Regions from separate parts of the Homo sapiens genome. Here all the other regions are linked to region 1. The links come from fine-mapping of genetic effects on gene expression. A gene starts in region 1. Each other region holds a variant in brackets. All regions are shown on one strand. Distances are from middle to middle. Region 1 holds the start of RNF141 (ring finger protein 141). Region 2 overlaps AMPD3 (adenosine monophosphate deaminase 3). Region 3 has its middle 110 kb from the start of LINC02752.

Region 1 (8,359 bases):
CAAACAGCCTTGGTGCCATGGACAGTGGCATGAGGCAGACTGGCTCCTGGGCAAAAAGGGGTGGGTCCTCAGTGAAACCCTACCTTTAGGCAACTGAGAGTCTGAAGCCTGGGGGCTGGGCTGCCAGGTCCTCAGACTGGAGTGAGAACTTATGGCACTTTTTCTACTGCCCATGGACCAATCAGCATGCACTTCCTCCCTCTTGAGCCCATAAATATCCTAGGCTCAGCCAGACTCAAGAAACATGGGGACAACCTGCCTGCGTGTAGGAGCTACCCACTCCAGATCTCCTCTCTGCTGAGGGCTCAGCAGACATCCTGACGACCTGCCTGCAGAAAGGAGCCACCCACTGTGGGTCTCCTCTCAGCTGAGAGCTGGGCAGACAACCGGACAACCTGCCTGCAGAAAGGAGCTACCCACTTAGAGTCTCCTGAGAGCTATACTGTCACTCAATAAAGCACCTCTTCACCCTACTCACCCTCCAATTGTCTGCATACCTCATTATTCCTGGATGTGGGACAACAACTTGGGACCTGCCAAATGGCAGGACTGAAAGAACTGTAACACAAACAGGGCTGAAACACCCCCTCACTCCCCATGTTGCAAGCGATGAGAAGGACAGAAGAGAGAAGGAGAGAAGAGCTTTGACACTTCGAGAAGCCCAGACCTAAGAGCTCCCTGAGCCAGGACTGTAACACCCTCTTGGGGGCTCTGCATTTCCTGGCATCTCAAAGCTTCCAGGTGCCACCACATTCCCTAGTGCCAGCAGTGGAAGCCGCTTGTGGTACTCCTGGTCCAGCCACAGCTTTGCAGGAGCCAGCGCCCATGCCAGCACCTGGAGCCACCCGCCCCGCCACAGCTGGCGTGCCTAGCTGTGCACAGCGGCCAGACCTCGCGCTCACTTGCTCACGCACCCCTCACCACTTTGCGCCTGGCTCGTCCTTGGCAGGCATGGGATCTGGGCCAGTGGCATGAGCCGAGTGCAGCCTGCAAGGCCAAATGGGCAGAATGAGCCCAGTGGGCCTGAGCAAAACTCGGGCAAAGGAGCCACCGGCCACAGAGGTTTCTGGCTGGCAGAGCAACACTCCAAGGATCCTGTGACAGTATGAGGAAAGGAGCAAGATATTAAGAGTTTTTTGGCATATGCTATTCAATTTTTTCAGGTTTATTTGTTGAAAAGATTATCTTTTCCCCCACTGAATTGCCTTGGCATATTTGTCGAAAATCAATTGATGACATATGTATAGATACATCTCTGGGTTCTATATACTGTTCCATTACTCTATCTATTTTCATACCTATACTATACTGTGTTGAGTAGCTCTTATTATAATGTCTTGAGATCAGGTAGTGTAAGTCCCAAAACTTTGTTTTTTTTGATGAAAGTCTTGACTATCCTAGGTCCTTTGCATCTCCATATAAATTTTAGAATTAGTTTGGTCATTTCCATCAAAAAGAAATCTGCTAGAATTTTTATTGGAATTTCCTTAAATCTGTAGGTCAATTTAGGCAGAAGTGATATCTTAAAAATGCTCAGTCTTCTGATTCATGAACATAATGTATCTCTATTTATTTAGGTCTTCTTTAATTTCTCTTAACAATGTTTTTTATTTTATTTTAGATTCAGGGGGTACACGTGTAGTTTTGTTACATGGGTATATCGAACAATGCTGAGGTTTAGGCTTCTAATGATCCAGGTCACCCAAGTGGTGAACATAGTACCCAATAGTAGTTTTTTCTACCCTTTTGGAATCCCCAGTGTTTATTGTTCCCAACTTTGTGTCTGTGTACTCAACGTTTAGCTCCTACTTATAAGTGAGAACATGCGGTATTTGGTTTCCTGTTTCTGCATTATTTTGCTTAGGACAATGGCCTCCAGCTGTATTCATGTTGCTGCAAAAGATATGATCTAGTCCTTTTTGTGGTTGTATAGTATTCCATGGCGTATATGTACCACACTTTCTTTATCCAATCCACTATTGATAAGCACCTGGGTTGATTCCATGTCTTTGCTATTCCATAATATTTTATAGTTTTCAGTATACATGTCTTTCTCATCTTTGGTCAAATTTGTCCCAAATTTGCTGCTTTTTTTTTTTTTTTTTTTTTTGCTGATAAGAGATATTTAAAAATTTTCCATTTCTAATTGTTCATTGCTAGTATATAGAAATACAACTGATTTTTGTATATTTGATTTTGTATCTTGCAACTTTTGTAAACTCACTTATGAGTTCTAGCAGCTTTTTTGTAGTATTCCACAATTTTCTTATGCAAATAAATGCAGTGCTACAACTTCCTTTCCAACTTGGATGCCTTTTATATATTTGTCTTTTTTTATTTCATTGACCAGAACTTCCAATACAATGTTTAATTGAAGGCAATTTTTACAGAGTAATATTTCTAACTCCCAGGCCCGGATTAGGCTGAACTATGGAATCTTGTTGAATTTGATATCTTTTGGAATTTATTAAATCATTATTTATACTTCATTTTTAAGCTTTTTCCTTTTCCAGTGTTCAAATATTCATCAAATGTTCAAATATTGAACAAGTACCATGCTGGCTGTCAGGGAAATAATGGTGCACAAACAGGCATGGACCTAGCGCTAATGAAGTCTTACCGTACTACCGAGGCAGTTTAAAACAGGAATTAAAAACACAGGTTCAGGGTTCTGTCTGCTTGGGTTTGAATCTGGCTCTGCTCCTTAATGGTTGTTTGACCTTGGAAAAGTTAATCGACTTTTCTAAGCCTGTGTCTTAGTGAAGGTATTAATAATACCTACTCACAGGATTGCTGTGAAGATTAAACGAATTAATACCTTTAAAGTCCTTAAAATACGGTTTGACATATAGTAAATGGTCAAAGAGTATTATTATTAGAGGGAAGAATTAGCTCTTCACAAGGTGAATCTACAAGTGACTGGTGAAGGAGGGGTGTACAAACAAGAAACATAAAAACCAGTTTAACTGCTAAGCATAGAGGCAGCAGTGTCAGCTGTACCTGGGTTAAAATCCTTGCTCTGCTGTTTATTGTCTAGGCAACTTTGACCAGACGACTTAAACAAGAGCAATGCCCGTAAAGTGCCTAGTGCAGTATTTGGCACACAACAGATGCTTAAAAGACAGCAATTACTGATTCAGACGTCCCGCAGAGCAGTAATATCACTAACATGTGCTCATCATCATATCTATCATTTATCAAAGCTCAGGATTTTGAACCTTGTAATTACTTTTCATACATTCTCTTATGCTTAACAACTCGGCTAGGTGAACACAATCCATTGCCTCATAAAGAAACAAGATGACCTTTGTGTATCTATCATCAGTGGGGAGGCTGGAGGTCTGGGAAGTGGTACCTTGGAGCCCAACTGTTGACCAAACCAGGGCTCTCAGTGCGGCCTTGGTCGCCAGCGGGGCGCTCCACTTTCCGCTCCGGAGATGGCACCAGGAGAGATGGGAGTCTGCCAGGCTGTTTCCATGGCCACCTCATGAAGCCCCTGCTCCGGGAGCGTGACAGGCGAGACTCTCCTTCGCCGCCACCTCTCGTCTCAGATGACCATCTGGGCTCGAAAGCCCTCAGGAGCTGCGGAGCGCGGGTCGGTAGGGGCGCTGCAGAGGAAGGTTGGGCGCCGTCTCCCGGCAACGCGCGGGGGGCGGGGCTTTGCGTCACAGAGGTGCGACCGGGTCCCGGCCTGAGTCGCGGCCACCCGCAGGTCTGAGCTGTGGGCTGAGGCAGCGCAGCCGCTGCCGCAGGGTGCGCGATGCCTTGAACCTGGGGTGAGCTCCGCGGCGCTGTCCTTTCGTGTTTCCCTTGCTAGCTGCTCCAGGACTCTGGGTCTGGGAAGAGAAACCCCAGAGGGCCCTCCGCTGCCGAGCCAGGCTTCCGCGGGGAGACAGGCCTAGCCCCGCCGCCCTCCCCGGGCCTCGGATTGGGGCGTGGGGACGGCTGGGGAGGCCATTCTATTGACGCCCGTCTTCTGCCCGGCGGGTTCCAGTTGCCCGGGGTGGCGGTGGCTTGTCCCGCCTCGGGGTGGTTCTGAGGGACCCGGAGAGAGTTTTTCCTTCTCTATCCCAAAACGGTTGTTTGAATATTGCCGCCGGCTCAGTCATTCGGCCGCCGGACTTAGCTGTTGGTTAAATGTCCAGGTGCGCTTGAGGAGGGGCTGAGGCGGCGTAGCCAGAGCGAGCGCTAGGGTGGCCCGCGGGCTCGGTCTCCGCCGGGCTGGACACCCAAATAAGAAACCTTTTGCCTGGGACGATAGCTCAGAAATAGCCACGTCGATCTACTTAGCCAGCCCCACACTTATGAATTGGCTTAGGCTGCTACCCTTCCCAAAGGTCTTTCCTTGTCAAACTAGCTGCTACCTTGAGACCCGGCTAAGAAAAGAACGTTTTCTTGCTAATAATAAGAAGGTAGTGATTACACAGCAGGAGCAGAAGGCTTCTGTGTTAGCTTTTGAAATTATTCCTTCAGTTATTTGTCTCGGCGTTACAAAATGTGGATTTACGATTGTTATTGAAATCGATCCCTATGCCCCTTATTAAAGGTAGTGTACCTTTTATATTCTGACACTGTCCTATTTAGCGGTGCCAGCTAATTCAGTTCTTGCCTCTGGCATATATATAAAGCTGCTGGAACACTTTCAATTGTTTATAATTCTTACATCTTCAGCACGAATTTATTCGTTTTCACTCCCTTCTGCCCATTCTTCTTGCTATAAAATGACCTCTACCCATTCAGAATTTTGTCTGGGGGCATGAGCTGCCACCGGCCGACGATCCTAAATTAGTCACCTCCATGTCGAAGTCACCCGTCTGAGAAGTGATGCTTTCTGAATTCAGAGCTCAAAAATAGTATGGATTTTTATCCTTTTCTTTCACATTGCCTGACTTCAGTTTCTAGAACTTTTTCTCAAGAATATGACTATATGTTTCAAAAATTAATATTTGTCATTTGGTGTAAATGAACTTTATATTCGATGTGTGTAGCCTGATCCTTCTTGGTTCCCATCTAAATACAAACACGCTTTCCTTCCCAAAAAGGCAAGGGAGGTCCAGAGAGAATTCTTACAAGTCTAATATGCTTTTTCCAATATGAAATGCATTTAGTAAACACACTGTTACTGTGAGAAATCCATATTCTTAATCTCCTAGTACGGCACTCTATCCTTTTGTAGTTTCTCTCTCCTTCTCTCTCTAATATATATGTATGTATCTTTTTCTGATCAAGATCTTTGATTCTGGAACAGGCATTCTGGACTCTATAGTGACTCTGGCCTAATTATTTCACTATGTATCTATATTAACTTGTCTTGAAAAAAAAAAGTTGATATCTGTTTACAGATCTACAGTTTGAGTAAACAATGAGTAATAAAGTAAATAATATCCTTAGGGACCCAGTCAGTAGTACTTGGTATTTATTACTGATGTTAAAGTTGACTTGACAGTGAAAATCATTGATGTTTATTTCAATTAAATCCTTTTAGGTGAGGTTGATACAAAATTTGATGGAGAACTGGTTTCAGAGAGGTTTTTAAAATACTACAGTGCAGTACTTGTCATTTAGTCATTTTGGTGCATTTTCAGCCTTTTCCATTTTGCTTTAGTTATTTTATGAATGAATTATGGTTTAAATTTTTAGGAGTTTTTGAGCAGTTTTTTCGTTTTTGCTTTGCCAGTTACCCATGATGTAATTTTAATATTTTTATAAGGAATATTTGAACTTCCACAATTCATTTGTTAGAAAAATAAGTGATTCACTATGTACCACCCACTAGAGAATGTGGCATTTTTGGAATCCTTGATCTTGTGCATTTCAAAATAACAGTTCTTTATTTAGAAAATCCTTCAAATGCTTTTTGAAAGCATATTTTTATCTTGCAAAAAATGACTGTGTTATAGGTGGCACAATAATATGAGAGCTGCTAGTTCTTTGAGAAATCTTGACCAGAAATTCATCTTTTGTTGAATTCTGTGCCAGTGGTTTGCAAATTATGTTTCTATGCAATACCACTGTTGCATGGCCTAGGGGGGAGTATCTTGTTAAAATCAAATAGTAAATGTTTCCCAGTTTACATAAGCATTAATTTAATGACAGATTTTCACAGTTTTACATTTTCTTTCATACATATTTTTAACTTCTGCTTCTCTCCAACCTAGTACTAATAGATGACTGACCAAATTAACAAAAGTCAAAAGAATACTAAGTGAATAATAATAAAACAAAAACTGCCAATGGTATTTACTGCATTTATTCAGTAAACATCTATTGAGTGCTTGTGTATCTGCCAGAAGACAGACCATAGCTGCTGTCCTCAAGAAGCTCACTAGAGGGAAATGGCCAAGTGACTTAACGAATGTCATAGTATGATAGAAATATGTGCAGTCACCAAAGAGGGACACTGAAAAGCTGTGGTGGTTGACTAGAGGATGGCCTCAACAGATTGTTTTCGTGAACATGCACTCTGTGTTGTGGTTTTATATTGTATGCAGATCACAGAGTCATATCTTATTTTCACACCCATATAGTGATAGATGTTAATATTTATCAATATTTTATGGTTTTCAAAATAAACTAAATGTCAAGCCCTCTTTCTGGAACCAGGTTGAAAACCACTTCTGCAGGCTCTCTCAGGTAGTCTCTAGATACTGTTGCATTTTAATGCAAGGAGTTAGTGATGAAGTTTCCCAGATACCAAGTACAGTTACAAGATAACAAGTTAATATGCTGCCTCAAATTATAAACTTTACTCAAAGTTAGGGCAGCAGATGAAAACAATGCTGAAACAAAGGGGATCATTTTCTATTAATAACTCAATAAATAAGCAACTAACTCTTCTTTTGAAATATGGTTTTGGTGGGTAATGTAGGGTAGCAAAATACGCCACTTTGGCATAAGGATTATTTTGAGTTAAAAGCACATTGAAAAGCAGCAGATGTAAGAAGTGCCCACTGACCCTCCTAATTCTTCCTGAAGGCTGGAGATAAAACAGCCATGTGAAAGATGTCCTCTCTATGCCAGGAGGAAGACATTATCATTACTAGAAGTGGGCAATCAAAGCTGAGAGAAATGTGTTCAAAGAAGCCTTCTTAAAGTAACCCTTATCTTCCTAGTCACTTTTCTGTGATTAACTGGCCCAGCCCAAACCCTTGTGTCTTGTCATGTTTTCACAGTTTACTTCTCCTTTGTCCAATCTACTATGTAAGCTTTTGGCCTTAATTACTTTTTTTAGTCCTTATTTTTCTTGAGGGCTCCTGTGTATGTATAAAAATTACTAAATAAAATTTGTGTGTTTTTCTCCTGTTAATCTGTCTTAGGTTAGTTTAATTCTTGGGCCCAGCTGGAGACCTCAGAGAGCAGAGGGAGAGAAATTCTATCTCCCCTATACCACGTTGGTTAAATTATCATAGGTATTTATATTAAATATTGAGACTATATATTTCAAAAGTTCAGTTTTTTTCTTTGTTAAGTAATGTAGATATTATTCAAAGTTTTCAGCCTGGTTGACTAGAATCTTAATTACATTTTCATTAAATTGGTACAGGAATGTTAGAGGAAGGTTCAGTTTCATTTTGGGAATAAAATGTTAGGTTAAAGGTCACCTACTCCACTTCCCACCCAGGTAAAAATCCCTGTAACACTTATTAGATGTACTTCTAATCTTTACCTAAACACTTCCATACTTCCAATGAGAGGGAGCTCACATGTAGCAGCCATTTCCACTTCTGGATGGTGCGACATGCTTATCATCAACTGAAATCTGCCTTTCTAATTTATACTTACTATACTTAGTGGCCATCCCATTCTCTGTAAATGAATCTTGTTTTTCCACATGACAGCTCCTCAGATATTTAAACAAACTTATATTGCTTCATTGTTACCAAACTATGACTATCTAGAATAAACCTCTTTTTTTTTCTATGCCCATGAATATGTTCTAATTTATTAGTATCCTTTAAAGCCAACTGCTTAGAGCTGAATACAGACTTTTCAGTGTGGCCTAACCATTGCAAAGCATAATGGACTAGTAGGCTGCTTGCTCAAGATACCTGCTTCTAGCAAGAGTTTAGGATTATTTTAGCATACTTGTTGCCCCCGTTATACTGTTGACTTATTTTGATTAAAAACCCCAGACTTGGCCGGGTGCGGCAGCTCATGCCTGTAATCCTCGGCCTGGGAGGCCGAGGCGGGAGGATTGCTTGAGCCCAGGAGTTTGTTACCAGACTGGGCAACAAACTCTGTTTGTTTAAAGAGACTCCATCTCTTTAAAAAACACAAAAACAAAAACCCAGACCTTCTGTATTTTAACTGCTTTTGAGCACATCTTACATATGTGTTTTTGTGCAGTTGGCTCTTCAGG
Region 2 (8,359 bases), 75 kb after region 1:
GATTGATTTGCATATGTTGAACCAGCCTTGCATCCCAGGTATGAAGCCAACTTGATCGTGGTGGATAAGCTTTTTGATGTGCTGCTGGATTTGGTTTGCCAGTATATTATTGAGGACTTTTTTTTTTTTTTTTTTGAGACGGAGTCTCGCTCTGTCGCCCAGGCTGGAGTGCAGTGGCGGGATCTCGGCTCACTGCAAGCTCCGCCTCCCGGGTTCACGCCATTCTCCTGCCTCAGCCTCCCAAGTAGCTGGGACTACAGGCGCCCGCCACTACGCCCGGCTAATTTTTTGTATTTTTAGTAGAGACGGGGTTTCACCGTTTTTAGCCGGGATGGTCTCGATCTCCTGACCTCGTGATCTGCCCGCCTCGGCCTCCCAAAGTGCTGGGATTACAGGCGTGAGCCACCGCGCCCGGCCGAAGACTTTTACATCGATGTTCATCAGGGATATTGGCCTGAAATTTTCTCTGTTGTGTCTCTGCCATGTTTTGGCATCAGGATGATGCTGGCCTCATAAAATGAGTTTGGAATAGTTTCAGAAGGAATGGTACCAGCTCCAAACTATTGTTGGGAATAGTTTCAGAAGGAATGGTACCAGCTCCTCTTTGTACCTCTGGTAGAATTTGGCTGTGAATCTGTCTGGTTCTGGGCTTTTTTTGGTTGGTAGGCTATTCATTACTGCCTCAATTTCATAACTTGTTATTGGTCTATTCAGGGATTCAACTTCTTCCTGGTTTAGACTTGGGAGAGTGTATGCATCCAGGAATTTATCCAATTCTTCTAGATTTTCTAATTTATTTGCATAGAGGTGTTTATAGTATTCTCCGATGGTAGTCTGTATTTCTGTGGGATCAGTGGTGATACCCCGTTTATTATTTTTTATTGTGTCTATTTGATTCTTCTCTCTTTTTCTCTTTGTTAGTCTTGCTAGCAGTCTATTTATTTCATTGATCTTTTCAAAAAAAAAACAGCTCCTGGATTCATTGAGTTTTTGAAGAGTTTTTCATGTCTCTATCTCCTTCGGTTCTGCTCTGATCTTAGTTATTTCTTGTCTTCTGCTAGCTTTTGAATTTGTTTGCTCTTGCTTCTCTAGCTCTTTTAATTGTGATGTTAGGGTGTTGATTTTAGATCTTTCCTGCTTTCTCTTGTGGACATTTAGTGCTATAAATTTCCCACTACACACTGCTTTAAATGTGTCCCAGAGATTCTGGTACGTTGTGTCTTTGTTCTCACTGGTTTCAAAGAACATCTTTATTTCTGCCTTCATTTCCTTATTTACCCAGTAGTCATTCAGGAGCAGATTTTTCAGTTTCCATGTAGTTGTGTGGTTTTGAGTGAGTTTCTTAATCCTGAGTTCTAATTTGATTGCACTGTGGTCTGAGAGACTGTTTGTTATGATTTCCATTCTTTTGCGTTTGCTGAGGAGTGTTTTACTTCCAATTATGTGGTCAATTTTAAAGTAAGTGTGATGAGGTGCTGAGAAGAATGTATATTCTGTTGATTTGGGTTGGAGCTTGTTCCAGAGCTGAGTTCAAGTCCTGAATATCCTTGTTAATTTTGTCTCGTTGATCTGTCTAATATTCACAATGGGGTGTTAAAGTCTCCCATTATTATTGTGTGGGAGTCTAAGTCTCTTTGTAGGTCTCTAAGACTTGCTTTATGAATCTGGGTGCTCCTGTGTTGGGTGCATATATATTTAGGACAGTTAGCTCTTCTTGTTGCATTGATCCCTTTACCATTATGTAATGCCCTTCCTTGTCTCTTTTGATCTTTGTTGGTTTAAAGTCTGTTTTATCAGAGGTTAAACTTGCAACTTCTGCTTTTTTTTTTTTCTTTCCATTTGCTTGGTAAATATTCCTCCATCCCTTTATTTTGAGCCTATGTCTGTCTTTGCACTTGAGATGAGTCTCCTGAATACAGCACACTGTTGGGTCTTGACTCTTCATCCAATTTGCCAGTCTGTGTGTTTTAATTGGGGCATTTAGCCCGTTTACATTTAAGGCTAATATTGTTACGTGTGAATTTGATCCTGTCATCATGATGCTAGCTGGTTGTTTTGCCCATTAGTTGATGCAGTTTCTTCGAAGTGTTGATAGTCTTTACAATTTGGTATGTTTTTGCAGTGGCTGGTACCGGTTGCTCCCTTCCAGGTTTAGTGCTTCCTTCAGGAGCTCTTGTAAGGCAGGCCTGGTGGTGACAAAATCTCTCAGCATTTGCTTGTCTGTAAAGGATTTTATTTCTCCTTTGCTTATGAAGCTTTGTTTGGCTGCATATGAAATTCTGGGTTGAAAATTCTTTTCTTCAAGAATGTTGAATATTGGCCCCCACTCTCTTCTGGCTTGTAGGGTTTCTGCAGAGAGATCTGCTGTTAGTCTGATGGGCTTCTCTTTGTGGGTAGCCTGACCTTTCTCTCTGGCTGCCCTTAACATTTTTTCCTTCATTTCAACCTTGGGGCATCTGACGATTATGTGTCTTGGGGTTGCTCTTCTCGAGGAATATCTTTGTGGTGTTCTCTGTATTTCCTGAATTTGAATGTTGGCTTGTCTTGCTAGGTTGGGGAAGTTTTCCTGGATAATATCCTGAAGAGTGTTTTCCACTTGTTTCGATTCTCCCCGTCACTTTCAGGTACATCCATCAAACGTAGGTTTGGTCTTTGCACATAGTCCCATATTTCTTGGAGGCTTTGTTCATTCCTTTTCATTTTTTTTCCTCTTATCTTGTCTTCTTATTTTATTTCATTAAGTTGGTCTTCAATCTCTGATATCCTTTCTTCCGTTTGATTGATTCAGCTATTCATACTTGTGAATGCTTCACAATGTTCTCGTGCTGTGTTTTTCTGCTCCATCAGGTCATTTATGTTCTTCTCTAAACTGGTTTTTCTAGTTAGCAATTCATCTATCCTTTTTTCAAGGTTCTTATCTTCCTTGCATTGGGTTAGAACATGTTCCTTTAGCTCAGAGGCGTTTGTTATTACCCACCTTCTGAAGCCTACTTCTGTCAATTGGTCAAACTCATTCTCTGTCCAGTTTTTTTCCCTTGCTGGCAAGGAGTTGTGATCATTTGGAGGAGAAGAGGCATTCTGGTTTTTGGAATTTTCAGCCTTTTTGCACTGGTTTACATCCCCATCTTCGTGGATTTATCTATCTTTGGTCTTTGATGCTGGTGATTTTCGGATGTGGTCTCTGATTAGATGTGCTATTCCTTTCTGTTTGTTAGATTTCCTCCTAACAATCAGACCCCTCTGCTAGAGTTTGCTGGAGGTCCACTCCAGACCCTGTTTGGCTGGGTGTCACTAGTGGAGGCTGCAGAACAGCAAAGACTGCTGCCTGTTCTTTCCTCTGGAAGCTTCATCCCAGAGGGGCACTTGCCTGATGCCAGCCAGAGCTCTCCTGTATGAGATGCCTGTCGGCCCCTACTGGGAGGTGTCTCCCAGTCAGGATACACGGGGGTTAGGGACCCACTTGAGGAGGCAGTCTCACCCTTAGCAGAGCTTGAACGCTGTGCTGGGAGGACTGCTGGTCTCTTCAGAGCTGTCAGGCAGGGACATTTATGTCTGCTGAAGCTGTGCCCACAGCTGCCCCTTCCCCCAGGTGCTCTGTCCCAGGGAGATGGGGGTTTTATCTATAAGTCCCTGATTGGGGCTGCTGCCTTTTTTTCAGAGATGCCCTGCCCAGAGAGAAGAAATCTAGAGAGGCAGTCTGGCCACAGCAGCTTTGCTGAGCTGCGGTGGGTTCCACCTAGTTTGAACTTCCTGGTGGCTTTGTTTACACTGTGAGGGTAAAACCTCCTACTCAAGCCTCAGCAATGGCCAACGACCCTCCCCCTACGAAGCTTGAGTGTCCCAGATTGATCTCAGACTGCTGCTGTGCTGGCAGTGAGAATTTTGAGCCAGTGGATCTTTTTTTTTTTTCTTTGAGACGGAGTTTTGCTCTTGTCACCCAAGCTCAGTGCAATGGTGCGATCTCAGATCACTGCAACCTCCTTCTCCTGGGTTCAAGCGATTCTCCTGCCTCAACCTCCCAAGTAACTGGGATTACAGGTGCCCCCCACCACGCCCGGCTAATCTTTGTATTTTTAGTAGAGATGAGGTTTCACCATGTTGGCCAGGCTGGTCTTGAACTCCTGACGTCAGGTGATCCACTCGCCTTGGCCTCCCTAAGTGCTGGGATTACAGGCATGAGCCACTGCGCCTGGCCACCAGTGGATCTTAGTTTGCTGGGCTCCATGGGGCTGGGACCTGCCAAGCCAGACCACTTGGCTCCCTGGCTTTAGCCCCCTTTCCAGGGGAGTGAATGATTCTGTCTTGCTGGCGCTCCAGGCGCCACTGGGGTACAGAAAAAAAAAAAAAAAAAAAAACTCCTGCAGCTAGTTCAGTGTCTGCCTGAATGGCCGCCCTGTTTTGTGCTTGAAACCCAGGGCCCTGGTGGTGTAGGCACCAGAGGCAGTCTCCTGGTCTGCAGGTTGCAAGGACCATGGGAAAAGCACAGTATCTGGGCCAGAGTGCACAGTTCCTCAGGCTCAGTCCCTCAAGGCTTCCCTTGGGTAAGGAAGATAATTCCCCCATCCCTTGTGCTTCTCAGGTGAGGCAACGCCTCACCTTGCTTTGGCTCACCCTCCTTGGGCTGCACCCGCTGTCCAACTAGCCCCAGTGAGATGAACCAGTACCTCAGTTGGAAATGCAGAAATCACCCCCTTCTGCATCGATCTCACTGGGAGCTGCAGACCGGAGATGTTCCTAATTGGCCATCTTGCCAGCCTTAACTATATCCTAATTTTTTAAAAATCAATTTTTATCTGGCTTCTTAAAAAAATACATAATTCCTGCATTCTTCCTCAAAGCATGCTGAACATAATTTAAAGTTTTCTCAATGACCCAGGATCATCACTGTATTATCCAGTTATGATCTCAGAGGTGTGTTATCCCTAAACTACTGTGCTTCAAATTCTTGTGCCTGCTTTTCATAATTATTTTGTTTCCTCTCTCACTGTTGACTGTCTAATAACAACAATAACAAAACAGGAACATTAATGGTGCTCCAAGCACTGCGCTAAGGATTTTTTGTGTATTCGCTCATTTAATTCTCACAAGGTATGTCCTTTTATTATTCTCATTTTGCAGTTTAGGAAACCAGCTCAGGCAGTCAAGAGCTTTGACCAAGGCCATTCAGTAGTAAGTGACAGGGCTGCCACTTGAACCCAATAGGTCTGACCCCAAAGCCCAGGCTTATAATCACCACACATCACCTCTGTGACCCTGCCTGTAGAAGTCTCTCTCCCTGCTTCTAATTTGCTTCTTTAAATCTGCCACGGGATAAGAAACAATATAGCCAGATTATAGAATTCTGTGTAAAGTAAGAATAAATAGGAGATGGGATGGGAGGTGCCACAGACAAAGAGGGAGCTGGGGAGAGGGTGTCCTCCATGAAAATGTTAACTTTCGAACATTTACATATAAAGGCACCTCTAGT[G/A]AGAAGAGAAACTAAAAGACAAAATTGGGTATGGGCAGACCCCAGAGGAGGATGCTGGGGCATCTGACAGTCCAGGGACCAAGCTTTTTTTCAGGAAAGAAGCCGATGGACAGAGCGGGAGCTTTGACCAGTTTCCCTCCATTTCATTTAGAAGCAACAATTACATTCTAGGGAGCAGCACCTAGTGTCATTCCAGGGTCTACAGACCAGGGAACCGAAGACTCCACCCCTACCTGAAGAGGGGATAGCCTTATGGTTGAAGTGTGGGGTCTAGATTCAAAAGATATGGGCTCTAGTTCTTGCTCTGTCATTTACTCACTATGTGTCTTTGTGAAAGTAAATTCAACTTCTCTGAGCCTTCGTTCCCTAATCTGCAAAATCAGAATACTAAGAATATCCATTTGATAAGCTCGATGTGAGAATTAAAGAATGAATCCAACCTACACAGGCTAGTACTTAGCCCATAGTAAGTATTCAATGGCAGGAGCTGCTATTGTTCCCTGTCTCAGCAGCAGGAAGTCAGAGAAATCACTTATATTTACTCGGGATGCACTATAACCAGACACTGTCCGAAGCCTTTTACCTGTGGATTCCCTCATTCCTCACAACACCCCATGAAGGTAGCTGTTAGCATCTCCACTTTATAGATGAGGACGAGGCTGAGGCCCAGAGAGGTTTCCTAATTTCCCCAAAGTCACAGAGCATGACAGTGAGTGGCAGAACACAGAGGTCCAAGAAGTTGCAGCCACCCTGATGTAGTGTCCATGGTGGCAATGGGGAGGCAGGATGTCTTCCTCTGCCAGACATCCACTGCCCACCAACTAAGTTCCACAATGGATCCAGTCCTCAAGGAGCGTCTAGTCAAATGGCGCAGACAGATGCAAACTAAGACACCATAACCTAGGCAAGGACAGAACAAAGTTTTTGGAGAGAAGTTTGCAGGGGAATTTCTGGAAACCACAGAGCACCATTAAGACTTAGAGTAAGAAAGCTTCCATTTTGCCCTGAGTCTGGGCATTGAGAAGAGCACAGTCGCTTCAGCAGATGTCAGGCCCAGTGTCACTCTGTAGTGGAAACTGGTTCCAGAAACTTATTGTTCCTAGTAATAAAAAATGCCAGGATTTCTTTTCCTCTCATTGTTAAGGGTCTCAAATGCTCAATTCATAACACACAGAAGGCCCTGCAGACCATTCACTTGATGAAGTCAGCCCTTCTGTTCCACCCACGGAGTGTGAATGAGGGTCTCTACAGTCATACTCTTCTTGACCCTCCAGGGATGAGCACACTGCTGGGGCTGGGGCCACCCCACCTTATCCAACACAAGGCTGGCACTCAGAGGTTAACCAATGGCACCAGTGACTCCTGCCTTTATGGGCTCACCATCCTTTCAAGGAAGGAAAGCACTGGTCTTATGAGTGGTGAAGCTCTGTTCTTGCCTTTACACCAGTAGTCAACTTTTTACTTCTTTCCAAACGAGTTAAGAAAATGCGAGCTTCTACACAACCAAGAAAGGAAAAGACTTGCCTTTAAAACTGAGGCAGTATCTAGTGTGATCACAGACTAGGTCGGAGAGGGCTCAAAGGTCTACCATGTCAACTATTGATGTTTGCAGGGTACCGGGCAGGCAGAAAATCTGATAAAGCCCAGGGTGAGATAAACTGTGAAAGGATGAGGGCTTCTCATTTCACTTAGACTCCAATCCAAACTTCTTATCAGGGAGCACAAGGCCAGTCTGATCTGGGCCCCACAAGTCCTCCAGCCCTGGTCACAGCACTTCTTCCTTTAACAGACCTCTAACCACATGGGCCTTCTGGAAGAAACTGGGGGGCCTTTGCCCTAGCTGATTCTTCTATCTGGAAGGCCACATAGCTAGCTTCTTTATACCCTGAAGCATCCGCTAAGATGTCATCTCCTTGGAGAGGCCTTCCCTGACTTCCCAGTCTAAAAAAGGATTTTTTCTCTCTCTTTCCCGGCCTTTCTCTCCCCTAACCCCATCTCATCCTTATTCATCTCTTTCATAGCACTTGCGCTGCTCCTGGGCCTGTTTGCCCTCAGATCCATTCCTCATCCTCTCCTGTGTTTCCCAAGTGTGCCAGCAGGATTCTGGCTAGGTTTGGCCCATGGCAGCCACTGGGAGAACCTGGAAGGTGCAGAAAGGGTCAAACGAGGTATTGCCTGCCTCCATCTCTGCCTTGGGAGGCATCTCTGCAGCTGCCACCTCTTCCCCTTGGCTCCAGTTTCCACTGGAAAGTCCACCACAGTTCCACCTTCCCCAGGGCGACTCCACCTTGGCTCCAGAAACACTACTGCTTTCCTTGTCACTCCTGTCCTGGGTAGTAGCTGCTCCTTACTGTGTCTAATCTCTGAGCCGCCTCTCTCTCCCCTGTTTGGTTTCTCAGCTCTCTACCACCTGTGTAACCAATTCCCTGCATTAAAATTCTAATACTTCATTGGTTTCTGATCTTCTAGTTGGACCCTGACTGATACAGCACTTATTATAACTTGTAATTTTTAAGTTAATTTGTCCAGTTACTTAATTATTGTCTAGACCCAGGGACTCTATCTATCTTGTTCATTATAACATCTCCAGTCCCAGCACAGCACCCGGCAAATAGTAAGCTGTGTTCATTAGTAATGCAAAATGCTTGTCAAGTGATGAGAAGAAATACAATTGCTGTCTCCTAAGAAATCCTCAAATTTCCAAAAAGAAAAGAGAAATGCCATTTGGAAATGGTGTGTATTTTTTCACATCAGCAGCAAAGTGGGTTTTGATCTTTTCAGTGCAACAGAGGCACCGAGACATCCCTCAATAAATAAGAGGTGAGTTAAGTGGTCTTGGTTAAGGAACCAACACAGCTCTAGGGACATACCAGTCCCCATGAGGTGCCTCAT
Region 3 (8,359 bases), 680 kb before region 1:
TGTGAGTGGAGGGTACAGAAAGGGGCACTGGCTCCACCCTGACTTTTCTACAAATCCCAGAGCATTGCACCTCTCACCCTACCCCCACCACCTTTGCCCTGGGCTCACCAGTCAGCTCTTGATCTTCCAGGATTGGTCCAGCCCAAGGGTCTGTATCGACACAAGCCACGTGGTACAGTAGAAAGAACATGGAGGAGGGTGCTTGGCTTCCAGCTCTTTGATGACCTATGCAGCTGTGGGGAAGACATATGACCTCTCTGAACCTCAGAATTGGGAAATCTCTAAAATTAAGAAAGTACCAAACCTCTCTCACGGGGTTGTGGCTATGATCAAACAGGGAAATATATGTGAAGCTCTATGTAAACTCTAACTTTTTCCACAGCTGATATTCAGCAAGTACCTACCAGAACAGCTCTATCTGTGGTTTATGGCTGTTGCTTGTTCTGACTGGCCAGAGCCTGTGCTGTCCCTGTTATTAAATATGTCAAATATCACTTCTGAATAGCATCACTATTACCTGTACATCTTGTATCCCTTGCTTGGAGGCAGCCGGCCAACCTCTCTGAATAGTAGAATCACAGCTCATCTATAAGGAGAGTCCTAGGGAGGGCCATATTGCTGTGCCAAGGAAGAATGTCCTAGTACAAGACATGGAGGCATCCTCCAGATAGATCGATCCCATTTCAAATGGGCAAACACAGAGCATCTTGTGCAAATATGCCACAAGACTTGCTTCAAGGCCCAGCCCGTTGCTAAGGAGTCCAGTGTTTCACCCAGCTTAATTAAGCATGTTTAAAGGGATACATGCTCTCCCCCATCCATCCACAAAAAGGCCCTTGGCAGAACTCGAGTAATTAATCAGAGGGCTGTGCGAGTGGATGCTCTCTCGCTTGTGAAGAAAAGCTGACCTGGGCTTAGATCTAAGGGATTTGAGCTCTGAATAATCTTGGAAGATTGGGGAAGGCAACCTGGGGACAGGCCAGCAGGCACTCAGGGTTGCGCATGGGAGAGAGATACTCACACTCTGCAATGTGGCATAATACAATGAGGTAGGGAGATGAGAAAAGGTCTTCATTAGAATCTGTTTGCATATTCATTGTCAACTGTGACTAGCTTAAACTAAACTCACCCATCACAGAAATCCATAGTGACTGTCAGACAATGATAAGCCTTCTTATTTCTCAATTTTGCTTTAAAGTAGACATGACTGAAAATATGCACTGTGTGATGCTCATAATCAGAGATAGACTGCAATTAAAACTAACCAATGATTAAACTTCACCCTCACCCCAACTGTTCACTCAATAACTGTGTTAATCATCATCCTTCCTGCCAGTCATTGCAACTGTGGCTTTTAAGGTTGGCACATGGGGCGCTGCATTGGCCTGTTCATAGGAGGATAAGGGGATGTTGGGAGTATTTGATTTCTGTGCTATCATGGGATCAAAAGGCAAGCTTTGACTTAGCAGTGGCTTGGTGTGCAAGAGAGGAAGCTAGGACAAAGAGTGCTGGTCCACAAGAAGAAATTAGGAGGAGACAGAATTAAGACACTGAGCACTTCCTGCCTGCAGCCCTTTAGTTATGCCTGTAAATTCTGGAAAGTTCTGCAGGTGCTGTATTATAAGAGTAAACACTTCACACAGAATCTGTCTTGAATGACTAATGAGGTGCCACTTCTCTCTCTTTCCAGAAATGCCTTGATCTTTTCACCCTGCTCTGAATTCTCAGGGTCCTGGGCCATAGATTTCTAGTTCTATCTTATTTCTTACTTCGTACCAGGAGTGGGAGGGAAATCTTTTCCTCTTAAGCATAACTCTGTGACATTAACACATTACAATATTACCACATTGTGGACCCTGCCTCTTTTTTCTGTAGTAACAAAGACACTTACTCCATAGGGTGGATGGGAAAAAGAGAAAGGAAGGGAACGGGCAAGAAACCCCTATGCCATCCTTCATGCCCTGGGCCTTGTGCACATATGCACCAACCTTGAGAAAAGCATCATCATCCAAACCCATTTTACAGCTGAGGAAACCAAGACTCAGAAATGGGAGTGAGTGTTGGAGCCAAGAACCAAGATTTGTCTCACGCCAGAGCACACGCCCTTGCCCTGAGCCACTGCCTGTGTCCTGATTTTGCCAGCCAGAGTCCAGTGTTTCATTATTCTGTGTCTAATGGGGTATAATAAACTCGAATTAATTCTGACATTCAGGGCAGAATTTGGTCAACAAATAGAGAAGGTATTGCTGGAGGAACTCAGACGTGAGTGAGATTTGGAGCTAAATAAGGTTAGCCAGGCTCACAGGCTGGAGCAAGAAATCAGCAAAGGGCCAGAGCCCCTAGAACCTGTGAATGGGACCTCATTTGGTGGGGAAAAAAAGGCCTTTACAGATGTAATTAGTTAAGGAGCTTCCTATGGTTTGAACATTTAGTGCCCTCCAAAATGTATTTTGAAACTTAATCCCCAATGCAACAGTATTAAGAAATGTGGCCTTTAGGAGGTGATTGAGTCATAAGACCTCTGTCCCCGTGAATGAGATTAGGTGCCCTGATAAAAGGGCTTGAAGGAGGGAGTCTGCCCCTTTTTTGCCCTTCCACCTTCTGCCATGTAGGACACAGTGTTCATCCCCTCTAGAGAATGCAGCAACTTGGTGCCATCTTGCAAGCAGAGACAGTAGACCTCATAGACGCTGAATCTGCTGGCTACTTGATCCTGTACTTCTTTCTGAACGGTGAGAAATAAATTGCTATTATTTATAAATTACCCAGTCTGTGGTCTTTTGTTATAGCAACACAAACAAAGACAGATCTCCAGATTAGATCATCCTGGATTACCTGGGTGAGCCCTAAATTCAATGAACTGTGTCCTTAGAAGAGAAGGGGAGATGAGACACGCAGAGGAGAAGGTGATGTGATGACAGACACAGAGGTTGGAATGACACGTCTACAAACCAAGGAGCACCCTGGATTGCTGCAGCTGCCAGAAACTAGAGAAGAAACATCTCCTTCAGAACCTCCAGAAGGAACCAACTCTACCAACCCTACCAACATCTTGGGTTTGAACTTCTGGCCTCCATAATCGAAAGAATAGATTTTGATTGTTTTAAGACACCCAGTTTGTGGTAATTTATTGTGGAAACCCTGGAAAACAAATACAGGCTCTACTGCTGATAAGAATTAAGGTCAAACCAGGAAACACCAGCCATCCACTGGCTTTGGGCTGAGGCTGGTCCTGGGTCAGTGATTAAGAGCCCGAGCCTCTCCTTAGGAACTGCATACTGATGATAGAAGCTCAAAACCCTCCTTCTTCAACTTGGAGAATTGGCTGAAGTTTCAAATGCCCTCTGGTCACAGAGGATCCAGGGTCTTGATGGTGAAGAGCTTTGATGTCTGCTGCTGAGAAGGGCTGGGGCAGGCAGGAGCAGGCCCAAGCTGTGTGAGGTTCCTGTCATGGGGGTGTGGCCTGACAGATAGGGCAGGAAAGGGGAGATTATGCCTCTGGTTTTTTCTTCATTGATCATCTGTACCTTTGGAAGGATGGGCATGAGGATTTGGAAGGATGGGCTAGTTAGCTATCGACCCACTGTCCACGGGTTGCATTCAGCTTCTCTGACACAGAGCTGAGGGGATTCTTTCACCTTTCCTCTCCATGCCACCCCTGCTAAGCACCCCTGCACATGAGGGAAGCCTGGCATTGGCCTTGCAGAGGCCCTGACTGAGGGCCCAGGGCTGAGCCCAGACAGGAATTGCCACTTGCAGCATCTTGGAGCATGAAAAGCTGAAAAACAGATGCCCATCAGAGTTCCAGAGAAAGCTTAGATCCTGAAAGACAAAGCACACATGCCAAGTCCTAAGTCTCAAAACGCTGAATCAAAATCAGAATGTGGAGTCAAGAATTCAGAATGGGGCAAAAGGGGGGTCTGGGGTGGAAGCAGGCTGGGGATGAATAAGGGGAGTCCAGGTTGCCTACCCTGG[GC/C]TGACATCCTGGGGGCTGTGGCTCCCCTTCAAGGGATGGCAGGTCCTCGTGAATGACTGGGTAAGGAAAGGCTTATGTAAAGGTCTGAGGCAGCACTGACACCAAGCAGGGGGCCCCATGGTCAGCAGGACAGGCCCATGGTCAAGCCATTGCACTGCCTTCAGTTTACAGTGGGCAAAACAAACCCCGCATCCCTAAGGTCCAACCGGTAGTGACCCAACTGGTAGTGACATCTGTCTTCATGCTCAGGCCTTGGGAAGAGCAGGAGCAGAGAGGACAGAATGGGTGGCAGTATATGCTCCAGAAGCTTGTTTTAGAGTCCAAACCACTGTTCAGAGTTGGAAGCCTGCTCCAGGAATGACACTCAAAGGCACCCACAACAGGCCCCTGTAGGACAAAGCAATGTAGTTGTTCAGAGACTGGGAAAAGTTTTCTCTAAGAACTTGGACTATAGTTTGACCATCAGGCTCTCACTGGCCTGAATCACCTCTGCAAAGACTCCTAACTTAGATCTGGGTCCTGGATCCCACCGCCAACAAAACTCCTGGGCGGGCCATGCACCGTGGCTCATGCCTGTAATCCCAGCACTTTGGGAGGCCAAGGCAGGCGGATCACAAGGTCAGAAGTTCAAGACCAGCCAGTCCAACATAGTGAAACCCCATCTCTACTAAAAATACAAAACTTAGCCGGGCATGGTGGCGCATGCCTGTAGTCCCAGCTACTTGGGAGGCTGAGGCAGGAGAATCGCTTGGACCTGAGAAATGGAGGTTGCAGTGAGCCGAGATCACATCACTGTTCTCCACCTTGGGCAATAGAGTGAGACTTTGTCTCAAAAAAAAAAAAAAAAAAAAAGGGCCGAGTATGGTGGCTCACGCCTGTAATCCCAGCATTTTGGGAGACCGAGGCGGGTGGATCATGAGGTCAGGAGATCGAGACCATCCTGGCTAACATGGTGAAACTCTGTCTCTACTAAAAATACAAAAAAATTAGCCAAACATGGTGGCTGGCACCTGTAGTCCCAGCTACTTGGGAGGCTGAGGCAGGAGAATGGCATGAACCTGGGAGGTGGAGCTTGCAGTGAGCCAAAATCGTGCCACTGCACTCCAGCCTGGGCAACAGAGTGAGACTCCATCTCAAAATAAATACACACATACATACATACATACATACATACATACATACACACACACAAACTCCTGGGCAAAGCAATGGGTTGAACCCCTCTAACCTAAGTCCATTGTCTTTGAGTGGGGAAAAAAAAAAAAAAAAGAACTAGCAGGCCTTGCCCAGAGCAAGAGAAGGTAGAGGTCAAGAATTGGGCTGGGGCCAGACACGGTGGCTCACACCTGTAATCCCAGCACTTTGGGAGGCCGAGGTGGGCAGATCACGAGGTCAGGAGTTCGAAACCAGCCTGGCCAATATGGTGAAACCCTGTCTCTACTAAAAACACAAAAATTAGCCGGGCGTGGTGGCACACACCTGTAATCCCAGCTACTTGGGAGGCTGAAGCAGGAGAATCACTTGAAACCAGAAGGTGGAGGGGTTGCAGTGAGCCGAGCTCGTGCCACTGCACTGCAGCTTGGGCAAAAGAGCTAAACTCCATCTCAAAGAAAAAAAAAGAATTGGGCCGGACCCAACATTTAGCAGCAGAGGTAGCAGAAGACAAAGAGTGGACTGCCAGAGACTATTCTGACTCCACGTGCCCCTCTCAGGACGCCCTCATGATCCACAAGTAGAAGCAAATGAATCCTTTTCCCCAGGGAGCTAGCTCACCTTGTAGGCTCATTAGTGTTTCAAACACAAATTTGGTAGAACAGCAAAAACATATACCTTAGTAACATAATCATATTAATATGTAGAAAAGATCTGATGCAAATTGGAAAGTGGCATTTGGAAACTCTGATAAATGGCCGTGCAGAATTTAAGATTCCATTTGGAAGCCTGTTGGGAAAAAGGTGACACATGGGTTTCCATAGAGGGCTCAGGCTTCCCAGGCTCTGACCACACTCAGTTCAAAACAGCTTTCCAAATTACATCAACATGCAGGCATGACTTGTACCTGTCAAAGGGGATAATTCTTTTCTCCTGTAAATTATATTATCCAAAGCTAGTCAGGATAAGAGGAAACAGGCTCTCACTTCATGCTGCAGGAGGGAGGGTGAGCCCTTCTTCTGCATGGCCATTCAGCAGATTGCCTTGAAATTGGTCATATTTCCTCACCTAGACTTTCACTTCTAAGAACTAAGTCCAAAATATTGTTCAGAGGTTGTGCATGCCATCTCACACACCAATTTAAAGAATAGTCACTAAAGGCTTTTTTATTTCATGGGAAGGAAAAAATAATAAAATAAAATAAATAAAATTAAAAACTCCACTATTTCTGCCTTCCAGAAGGATGGCAAATTCATCTCTATAGTAGATGTCTATTTGATTCAGAAAATCCCTGGCCTTTTGGCTATGATAGGGAAGGCCATGGGCTAGTCTATATATAAGACATTGAGACAAAAAGAAAACTAAATTACTTAGCACAACAAAGTAATAGGATCTCTAGAGTGGTCCTGTTATTGGAAAGAGGTCCTGATCCAGACCTCAAGACAAGGTTCTTGGATCTCGCACAAGAAAGAATGAGGCAAATCCATACAGTAAAGTGAAAGCAAGTTCATTAGGAAAGTAAAGGAATGAAAGAATGGCTACTCCATAGACAGAGCCCATTTTTATGGTTATTTCTTGATTAAATGCTAAACAAGGAATGGATTATCAGTGCCGCCCCTTTTTAAGCCATACAGAGTAACTTCCTGATGTTGCCATGGCATTTGTAAACTGTCATAGTGCTGGTGGGAATGCAGCAGTGAGGATGAACAGAGGTCACTCTTGTCGCCATGCTGGTTTTGGTGGGTTTTAGCCGGCTTCTTTACTGAAGTCTGTTTTATCAGCAAGGTCTTTATGACCTGCAGCTTGTGCCAACGTCCTATCTCATCCTGTGACTTAGAATGCTTTAGCCTCCTGGACGTGCAGCCAAGCAGGTCTCAAGCCTTATCTTACCCAGGCCCTATTCAAGATGGAGCTGTTCTGGTTCAAACGCCTCTCACGATCCCCTGGGCACCCAAGAGAAAGGTGTTCTGGGGAACATGGGACAACCAAGAAGTGAGAAGATGGGAGGAGAGTCTGGGGAGAGGGGGCAGAGCCAAGAAATCTGGTAGCAGGACCTTGGGCTCAGCTGAGAGTGGCAGGAATAATGTTGTCTAATCTTCCATTTTCCAGCTGCAATTCCGTTTTACCCAAACCCTTTAATACAGGTCATTGTACAACAGACTTGTATTAACTTGCCTCTAGGAAATGAAGGAGGTGGGGCTTGCTCATGGTTGAAATGGAGTGAATCAGAATAGGCTGGAAGAGCCAGCAGGAGCCACGGGAAGACGTGAGAGCGAATTACAAATGGAGATTGGAGCAAGCGTTTAGAAACAGCAGTTGCAGGAGAATGTGAGCGCCAGACCCCACTCCCCGACCCCGCCACCCCCACGTTATCTGCAGATACATTAGCAGATATAACTGCTAATACATACAGATACATGGGGGTGGAGGGGCAGCGGGACCAGGGCCGGGGCCAGACCTGAAGAGGAAATCAACACGTTATCTGAAGTGATGGGATTACGTTTTTGTTTTGTTTCTTTCGTCTTTGCATATATATTTTCAAATTGTTTTTCCCAAGTATGTGTTACTTGTGAAATTTTTTAAAGTCAAACTAAAAAAAATAAACAAATGTGCCAACAGGGCTGTGGAAGGACTTGAACACTCAGTAGCAGCATGCAAGCCTTGCTCCCACACCGTTTTTCTCTTCAGACAGAGGGAAAACAAACAGCCATCAGCGCTGGCTCCTCTCCTAAACCTGCACAGGACACGGACTTGAGACAACTGTGAGGCAGAACCCCTTGTTTTCAGGCTCTGCCAACAAGGCTTCCAGAAACTCCAGGAACTCACATCCCAGGAGATGGGCGAAGCAAGGCAGAGCTGTCATTAGCAGGCATTCTCTGTCCCCACCATCCTCTATACTCTCATAGTCTCTAGATGCGATGTTTAAGTGTCTTAAAGAAGATTCACATGGAGAAAGTGGACCTCTCTAGAAAAGGAAATGGCATGCCTTCTACCAGGTTCCTGCTTTTATCCTTTCAGAAAATTCAAGAAACCAAAGTTTTTGAGTTCCAGCAGTGGCTGCTCTCATTCCTGCCAGAATCCCATTCCGTTCTCTGTGCTCTCTCTGGCCTTATGAATCTTGGCAGAGGGCTACTCTCCTATGGTGATGACTCCCATATTAATTTCAGTCTTTTCAAGACTTACTTGCTAATTAAAATGTGAAACAGTTTTTATCCCTTTAATTAAGACACA

What was found. PIP is the estimated chance that this variant, and not a neighbour inherited with it, causes the effect. A credible set is the group of variants that fine-mapping cannot tell apart.
Region 2: its variant is the best candidate, but not a certain one, in a credible set for the expression of RNF141 in spinal cord (GTEx, PIP 0.63).
Region 3: its variant is the best candidate, but not a certain one, in a credible set for the expression of RNF141 in putamen (GTEx, PIP 0.68).

Annotation. Positions count from the first base shown.
Region 1 is chr11:10,536,539-10,544,897 of GRCh38, reverse strand. RNF141 (ring finger protein 141) reads left to right here and starts at 3,711. Exons shown (of 6, transcript NM_016422.4): 1 at 3,711-3,776. IRAG1-AS1 (IRAG1 antisense RNA 1) reads right to left here and starts at 3,662. Exons shown (of 4, transcript NR_046375.1): 1 at 3,356-3,662. RefSeq lists an enhancer at 3,526-3,635.
Region 2 is chr11:10,461,816-10,470,174 of GRCh38, reverse strand. The region is part of intron 2 of AMPD3 (adenosine monophosphate deaminase 3); the gene reads right to left. Among named protein-coding and RNA genes, the nearest start is that of AMPD3, 11 kb to the right of the region's middle. The variant G/A (reference allele first, on the strand shown) is at 5,468.
Region 3 is chr11:11,219,953-11,228,311 of GRCh38, reverse strand. No RefSeq gene overlaps it. Among named protein-coding and RNA genes, the nearest start is that of LINC02752, 110 kb to the right of the region's middle. The variant GC/C (reference allele first, on the strand shown) is at 3,976.